2 linked regions of the Homo sapiens genome follow. The protein of the gene in region 2 purifies or fractionates together with the protein of the main gene of each other region. This does not show direct contact. Each region holds a gene or a part of one and is shown on either strand. Other genes may lie near its edges. The genes, in order: FKBP9 and COL4A1.

Evidence for each region.
Region 1: the proteins of COL4A1 (region 2) and FKBP9 purify together in Homo sapiens (co-immunoprecipitation; one large-scale study listed by IntAct). This does not show direct contact.

Annotation. Positions count from the first base shown.
Region 1 is NC_000007.14:32,974,201-32,978,024, reverse strand, and holds part of FKBP9 (peptidyl-prolyl cis-trans isomerase FKBP9 isoform 1 precursor), read right to left. Parts: intron 3,409-3,824; coding exon 3,263-3,408; intron 2,844-3,262; coding exon 2,654-2,843; intron 1,672-2,653; coding exon 1,526-1,671; intron 1-1,525. UniProt on the Homo sapiens protein: PPIases accelerate the folding of proteins during protein synthesis.
Region 2 is NC_000013.11:110,150,158-110,153,981, reverse strand, and holds part of COL4A1 (collagen alpha-1(IV) chain isoform 1 preproprotein), read left to right. Parts: intron 1-1,475; coding exon 1,476-1,648; intron 1,649-3,537; coding exon 3,538-3,619; 3' UTR 3,620-3,824. UniProt on the Homo sapiens protein: Type IV collagen is the major structural component of glomerular basement membranes (GBM), forming a 'chicken-wire' meshwork together with laminins, proteoglycans and entactin/nidogen.

The sequences.
Region 1 (3,824 bases), on a different chromosome or scaffold from region 2:
TCTTGAATCCAGGAGATAGAGGTTGCAGTGAGCCGAGATCGCACCACTGCACTCCAGCCTGGGCAACAGAGTGAGACTCTGTCTCAAAAAAAAAAAAAAAGTGTATATATATATGAGTATATATATATGAGTGTATATATACATATATATATATGGGCATGTATATATATATATGAGTGTATATATATATATGGGCGTGTATATATACATATATATATATAAGTATATATATATATATGGAGATAGAAAGGAGAGAAGGCTGAGCCCCATCACCTCAGGCTCCCTTCTGCTCCTGCTCCGCTCCACAGAGCCAGGAAAAAACGTTGAAAACATATTGGCTATTGTAAGCTGGCTATCACTATCAGTAAACTTCTTAAGAAGCATCATGTTCTCATTTATATCCTTAACTACAAAATCATGTGCTGCACAATGAAGTTTTGGTCAACAACAGACCACATATATGAGAGTGGTCCCATGAGATTATCATATCATGTCTTTACTGTACCTTTTCTATGTTTAGATACACAAATTCTTACCATTGTGTTACAGTAGCTCACAGGATTCAGTACAGATGCTGTGCAGGTTTGCAGCCTAGAGGAAACAGGTTACACCACACAGCCTAAGTGTGCAGCAGGATGTAGCACCTAGGATTGTGTAAGTGCACTCTATGGCATTTGCACAACAATGCAATTGCCTAATGATGCCTTTCTCAGAACATATCCCCATTATGAATCAACACATCATTGTATCCATCTGCTGTTTAAATGTCTACCGGTCTCTATGTTGTGCCAGCATGTCAATATGACTAAACGCACCTGAAATTCAAACATGAGTACCTGAGACATTCCATTTATCAGTCAATATTATGTGTTTTCCTTCACAGTAAAACTACAAACAGGACACTAGTTGTAATTAATGTGTTTTCTAACATTACACTTTGCTTTTGTCCATATGGAGTTAATGCCATAGGTAAAACTCATCATAGAGGTGCAAACGGGGAAATCTGGCAATTCTGACATTGTATGGCTAAATTTCTACCTGGATATCTGCAACTTTTATAGTGTCTAATTCAAGTCTCATTTCACAAATGTTAAAGCCAGAGAGGTTGGTGGCCAAGGCCATGGCAGGTACAACAGGGGCAGAGGGGGTTACTTATGAATGCCAATGACTATAAGTAAGTGGAAATTTCTGCAACTCAATCATCAGACAGCAGACAATCCAGACTAGCACTGTCAAATAGAACTTTCTGAGTGATGGAAATGATCTGGGTCTGTATCTGCACTGTCCACTATGGTGGTCCTCAGCAACGTGAGGCTATTGGGTACCTAAAATGTAGCAGTGTGACCAAGGAACTGAATTTTAAATTTTAGCTAATTAATAGCCACATGTAGCTAGTGGTTACCATATTGGCCAGTGTAGGTCTAGACCGAAAGGTCTAGTGGGTTTCATGTGGTGACAACTGAATTAACCACTGCAATAAAAATAAGGGTAGGAAAGAGTGGCTCCAAGAAGGAGACGGACTTACCATCTCCATCCTCTCCATAGGCCAGAAAAGGAGGAATGGTGATGATGCGCTTCTCACCCACACACATCCCCAGCAGCCCTTTATCCATTCCAGGAATCAGCCAGCCAATTCCCACATACGTGTCATATGTTTTCATGCGATTGTGACTGAAAGGTAATGAGAAAGGGAAAAAGTTCCACACCATGAGGATATTTCCAACTCATCTCTCCGTACGGTTTTTCTTACCCAAATATCAGCTAAACGATGATCCCATACCCATCCTAGAGATAGACATTTATGGATCTTTTCCCCCAAACACAGGGCAGATGTCCTCAAGTTTAGAAAGAAATAAAAAGCATGCATTTATACTAGTGATAGACAAAAACAGGCCAGCTATTCCACTAATCAAACACGCTCTAATGAGAAGAAATTGCGAAGGGTTCCCTGATCTCCCGTGTAGCCCCATGCCTCTCCATAGCTTCACATACATTCATCTTTTCCCTCTTGCTTCCATGGGAAAACTATAAAAAGGAACCAAAACGTGCATAAGCCTCCTTAGAAATAGAGACTTACACGGCCGGGTGCAGTGGCTCACGCCTGTAATCCCAGCACTTTGGGAGGCCAAGGCAGGCAGATCATGAGGTCAGGAGATCGAGAACACCCTGGCTAATATGCTGAAACCCCGTCTCTATTAAAAATACAAAAAATTAGCTTGGTGTGGTGGCATGCGCCTGTAGTCCCAGCTACTTGGGAGGCTGAGACAGGAGAACCGCTTGAACCCAGGAGGCAGAGGTTGCAGTGAGCCAAGATCGTGCCACTGTACTCCAGCCTGGGTGACAGGGCGAGAATCCATCTCAAAAAAAAAAAAGAAAGAAATAGAACCTTTCACTTAATGATGAGATCTCAAAATACTGTTAAGTTAGATAAACACTGCTCTTCAATGTTTCTAAGATGTATTAAAATTTTGACTCTGGCACCAGAGAAGATGCAACACTGACCAAAAGTCTTAAGTAGATGAGTTCAGTACTGATTACAGTTGAGAAGAGTCCTTATTCTGGTATCCCCATCAGCATAAAAAGCAAGTAAGACAGAAGGAAAGAACTATGCATGGGACATTTCACTGATACTGCCATGAACGACAGGACTTACCTCGAATCAAACAGAGTTCCGTCCAGGAACGTCCCGTTGTAGTGGTACCTCACAAAATCAGACACCTGGATGGTCCGAGGGCAACTCGGGGGCTTGAAATAGGTGTGAATCTGAACCTGGTCTTCAGAATTCCAAATATCCATCAGAAGTACATCAAAATGAAGCACTGAATTGGGGGGGATCACACCAGCTAGAAATTAAAGATTACACACTGAGTTCACAGTTGCTGCCTTTCAGGCCAGATAAATAAACACCTAGGATGCTCCCAAGGTGAATGTGGGCCAAAAGGGTTCAAGCAGTCACCGCTATACAATCCCAAAATGACCCATTCTTCCTCCCTCTTTCCTCCAAATGAAATTGAAAGAAAAGAGAAAAAACAGTCTTCTTCTCATTGAGGGTATCATTCAGTACATCTGTGTTAATGACACTTTCTTTCACATCTAGAAGAAATAAACCTAAGATGGAAATTTTAGCTGTGTATGAGTTCACTGCTTTTCATTTTCCCCCAATCTAAAGCTTCCAAGATTCTCCAGTCTGTTTGACTTAACATCCTAAAAGTGTTCTCATTGTTTCTGCTGACGTGTTTATAAACGAGGAAGAAAAGCTTACAAACTCCTTCATTTCCGTAGGCAAGCTTTGGGGGAATCTTCACGAAACGTCTCTCGTTTACGCACATCCCAACAAGAGCCTGGTCCATCCCTGTGATCAGCTGTCCTTTTCCCACAAACACATTGAAAGTGGAGTCTCTGTCATAGCTGAAGGCCCAAAGGGTAGGGAAAGAGAAAGAAAAGTATAAATAGTCCCTTCCTCAGTAAAAACCAACCTGTAAAAATGTGCCCACAGATGTAATGGGGCCATAGCAAAGCAAAAACCCTGCCTAGGAGTTACTGATACAGGAACATCTCCACTGGACAGTACTTGTAGGGTTGGAAATTTTAGACTACCTTGAATATTGCCAGCAAATCTAGTTCAATAAGAATCAGCATAACTCTCTCCAAAAAAAAAAAAAATGTGTTAAACTGATTTTGCAAAATAGTTACCTATTCTTTCACACACACAAAAAAGAAAGAGTTGGCTGTGGTCAGGCCAGGGCTTTGGAAGGCCAAGGCAAGAGGAGTTAAGTTGAAGTTAGGAGTTCGAGACCAGCCGGGGCAACAAAGTGAGGCCCCCC
Region 2 (3,824 bases):
AGATAACAAGGTAACTCACGGATGGTGTGGCGTCTGCCCTGCGCCCCAGCCGTGTGGAGGGTCTCTGTTCCACCTTCCAGACGTGCTGTGTGCGAGGCGCCCACCATTGCCATTTCCTTCTACTGGTTTTTTCTTGTGCTTTTCTACACATTTTTCCAAGTGTAGAAAAAGTTGGCAGGAAAGCAATTTTTAAAATGTTCGTGCACGTGTACAAGTTTGATTGTATGATTTGCTGGGTTGATTGTACTGCAGCTACACTCTTCATGTTGCAACCACCAGATTAACAGGTTGTTGCAATAATTCGAAGTGCTGCATTGTAACTACTTTATCGAGAGAGCCAGAAAGGTTGAAAATGCTGTATAGAGAAATCAGGACACTAACAATGATGTAAGCTTGCCATGTTCATTAAAAGGTAGATTGGATTCGCCACTCCATAATCATAAGAAATACTGAGTGGAATCTCTGTGTGTCAGAGAAAGCCCACAGTTGCATTGAGGACCCACAGGAAAGCTGTTGTCACCACCAACCCTTGTCCGGGTGTCAAAAGGCCTGAAACAGTGATTGCCCATAATTTGTCTAAATCAGGAGCAAACGAAAATAGTGACGTTCTAGAGAACAGTGTCTTCCAGCACCTCCTCTGAGTTCTCAGGACGGTGGCTCTGATCTGGAGGTCTGGAGACCCCGTCCTTGCCTCTGCTCCGCCTTGAAGCTATGTGATCCTGGTCAGATCCGAGAATGTCCTCAGCTGGGAATCAGTGGAGTTAGCCTTGTCCTCAAAGGTCCCTTGTGTCTCCAAAATTCTAGAGTTCACATTTCCTATATCTGAAATAATAGTCACGGGGCTCTGTTGTAATGTCTTAGTCAAGTTTGTATGTCATTCATTTTAAGGTCTTGATTTCTGAGTACAGGAAGGTCCTACTTAAACCTGCTAGACCAAAATGCAATTTGATATAGTAGTAGCTATTTTTTTCTCTTTCTCTTGTTTTTCTCTCTTTTTAAAGAAAAAAAATTGAATGATTATTCTTTACCTTATTATAAGATAAATAGCATCTAATATAGCAAATACAGGAATGCATTTGTAAAGTCTGATTCCACATCAGTTGTTTACAACATTATTTGAACATTTTGGCTATTGTCTCATGACCCATGTTAGAATGGGTTGGAGTGTTTCAAATCTAATACACAGTGAGCTCTTCTTTAAACTCTAATGAAGCTGGGCTGGTCACCTATTTGGGAAGCAGCCATTAGACGATCCCTGGGGCCATGCTGAGCACCATGGGGCCCCAGCCATGCAGGCACTGGCTTGCGGGCCAGCCCGATAATTTGGGCACAGAGTGTGTCCTGTGGTGACCACATGAGGCTGCAGTGTGTGGCTTTCCAGAGGGAACACCCTGGCGCCTTCCTGGGAAGGATCGATCTCTTTCCTGGTGTTTGGGGAGGGAACCTCTGACTCACGGCTCGCATCTGTTCTGCAGCACACCAGCGCTGGTGCAGAAGGCTCTGGCCAAGCCCTGGCGTCCCCCGGCTCCTGCCTGGAGGAGTTTAGAAGTGCGCCATTCATCGAGTGTCACGGCCGTGGGACCTGCAATTACTACGCAAACGCTTACAGCTTTTGGCTCGCCACCATAGAGAGGAGCGAGATGTTCAAGTAAGTGGGAGCACTGCTTTTTTGCAGGCTGCTGGCCCCTTTGTGACTTTATTTTTTAATCATCCGCGATCCGTAACACCTTCCAATGCAAAGTCTCAAAGATGGTTAGCAATGAATATTTGATGCTGTTCGACATGGGCAGATGACCGAGACGATTTTCAAAGGCAGACCTTCAGTCACAGGTTTAATTTTTTCATTTACCGAAGAACCATGAAAGAAAAAGGTCATTTTCCATTTTTTCTAGGTGAGTGTACTAAAATGTAATTAAAGCAACTGAAATCTCCAAACAGAGCATGTTTGAAATACAGTATATTTAACAATCCCGGGGAGAAGAAGTGAGCAGCGTTCATTTTCATGCCATTCATAACACTGATCGTAATGTACACTTTGTGTAAGTTCTGAGTGACTTCACAAGGTATTTTTTTAGACCTGTGCAAATAAAAATTAATTTCAGCACAAATTCAGCTGAAACTGAGAGGGAAGACCCTTCCTTCCTTTTCCATTACCAAAATCTCACCTTTAAAATGACTGGCCCAAGTGGCTACTAACCTTGCTGGAGTTGACTGGGAGCCGGGCCGGTCCCCGAAGGCCAGGAACGCATAATGAACCCTCTATCCCGAGCCCCAGCTGCAGCCCCGCTGGAGCCAATGCAGGAGGCTGACGGAGCTGGCACAGCTGCTTACTGTTCATTTCCAAAACAAGCGCTTCTCACCCCTGGAGATGAGCCTTTCCATCTTCACCTTTTTGGAGAGAATTATATGGAACCCTGCTATGATCCTGTCTCTTTCCAGCTTAGATAGTAAGAGGCAGAACAACATACACGCTTCTCTAATTCGTTACTCATCCAAAAAGTGCCGCGTGCCTAACTGGTGGTTTATTGGAGCCTTTCAAGGAACTGGAAACTTGACATCCATGCTGCAGATAGAGTTTAACCATTCACTACCAAAATGAGCGCACTTTGTTCATGCCTCAGCCCTTGCGGTGTCCTCTTATAAGGTTGATAGGTAATGATGGGTTTTTTTTTTTTAACCAGCAGCCTGATACAATAAACTAAAATGTTTTCCCAAAGCAAATTAGGTAAGATCCCATTAATTTAAATAATAAACTTGAGGGTACTAGAATTTGCACCAAAAGTTAATAAAATAAGCAGCCTCAATTTTAGGATGAGGCACTCTCATAAATGGCTATTTTAATTTAGTTTAATTAATTTATTTATTTTAATAGAATTTTCTCAGTAACAATTTTAGTTCAGATTTTACCTTTTCAACAATCAAAATAATGTAGAGTTTCTAAGCTTGAGAAACACTTGGGACATTGAATGTCTTTCCCTCTTTTTGGTCTCAAAGCAGACCATCTGCATAGAAATCCTTCAAAAGTTATAAAAGTATTTCGAGGTCTAGGGAATTACTCCAGATTTATTACTCATCACATCATTCCACAAATATTTAATGAATACTTACTGTGTGTGTAAAGTGTTGCAGAGAAGAATAATATCTTCTTCTTACCCTGGAGGAGTTTATGATCTAGTGGAGGAGAATGGAAAAAAAGTGAAATTGTAGTACGAGGAGGCAGGGTGGCACAGAGGGGAATGGCCAAGGCTTCGGAGCCAGACTGATGTGGCGGGACTTCAGCTGTGCCCTATGGGGCTGTGGGCACTGGGGCAGGTGCCAGGGCCTGGGTGTGCAGCTGGTAACCTGCAGTGTTCTGTGTGCGTGGGACCGTGTGTGCACTGCACCCAGCACCTGCCTGCTCACTGGGTGGTACCAGGTTGAGGCCTGATGCCAGGGGCTGGGCTGATCCCTTAGAGATTTCCGAGCAGGGCAGGAGTGCCATGTTTCTGACGTGCTGTGAGATGATGGCCAATGGTCTGTCTCTGTGTCGTGTTTTAGGAAGCCTACGCCGTCCACCTTGAAGGCAGGGGAGCTGCGCACGCACGTCAGCCGCTGCCAAGTCTGTATGAGAAGAACATAATGAAGCCTGACTCAGCTAATGTCACAACATGGTGCTACTTCTTCTTCTTTTTGTTAACAGCAACGAACCCTAGAAATATATCCTGTGTACCTCACTGTCCAATATGAAAACCGTAAAGTGCCTTATAGGAATTTGCGTAACTAACACACCCTGCTTCATTGACCTCTACTTGCTGAAGGAGAAAAAGACAGCGATAAGCTTTCAA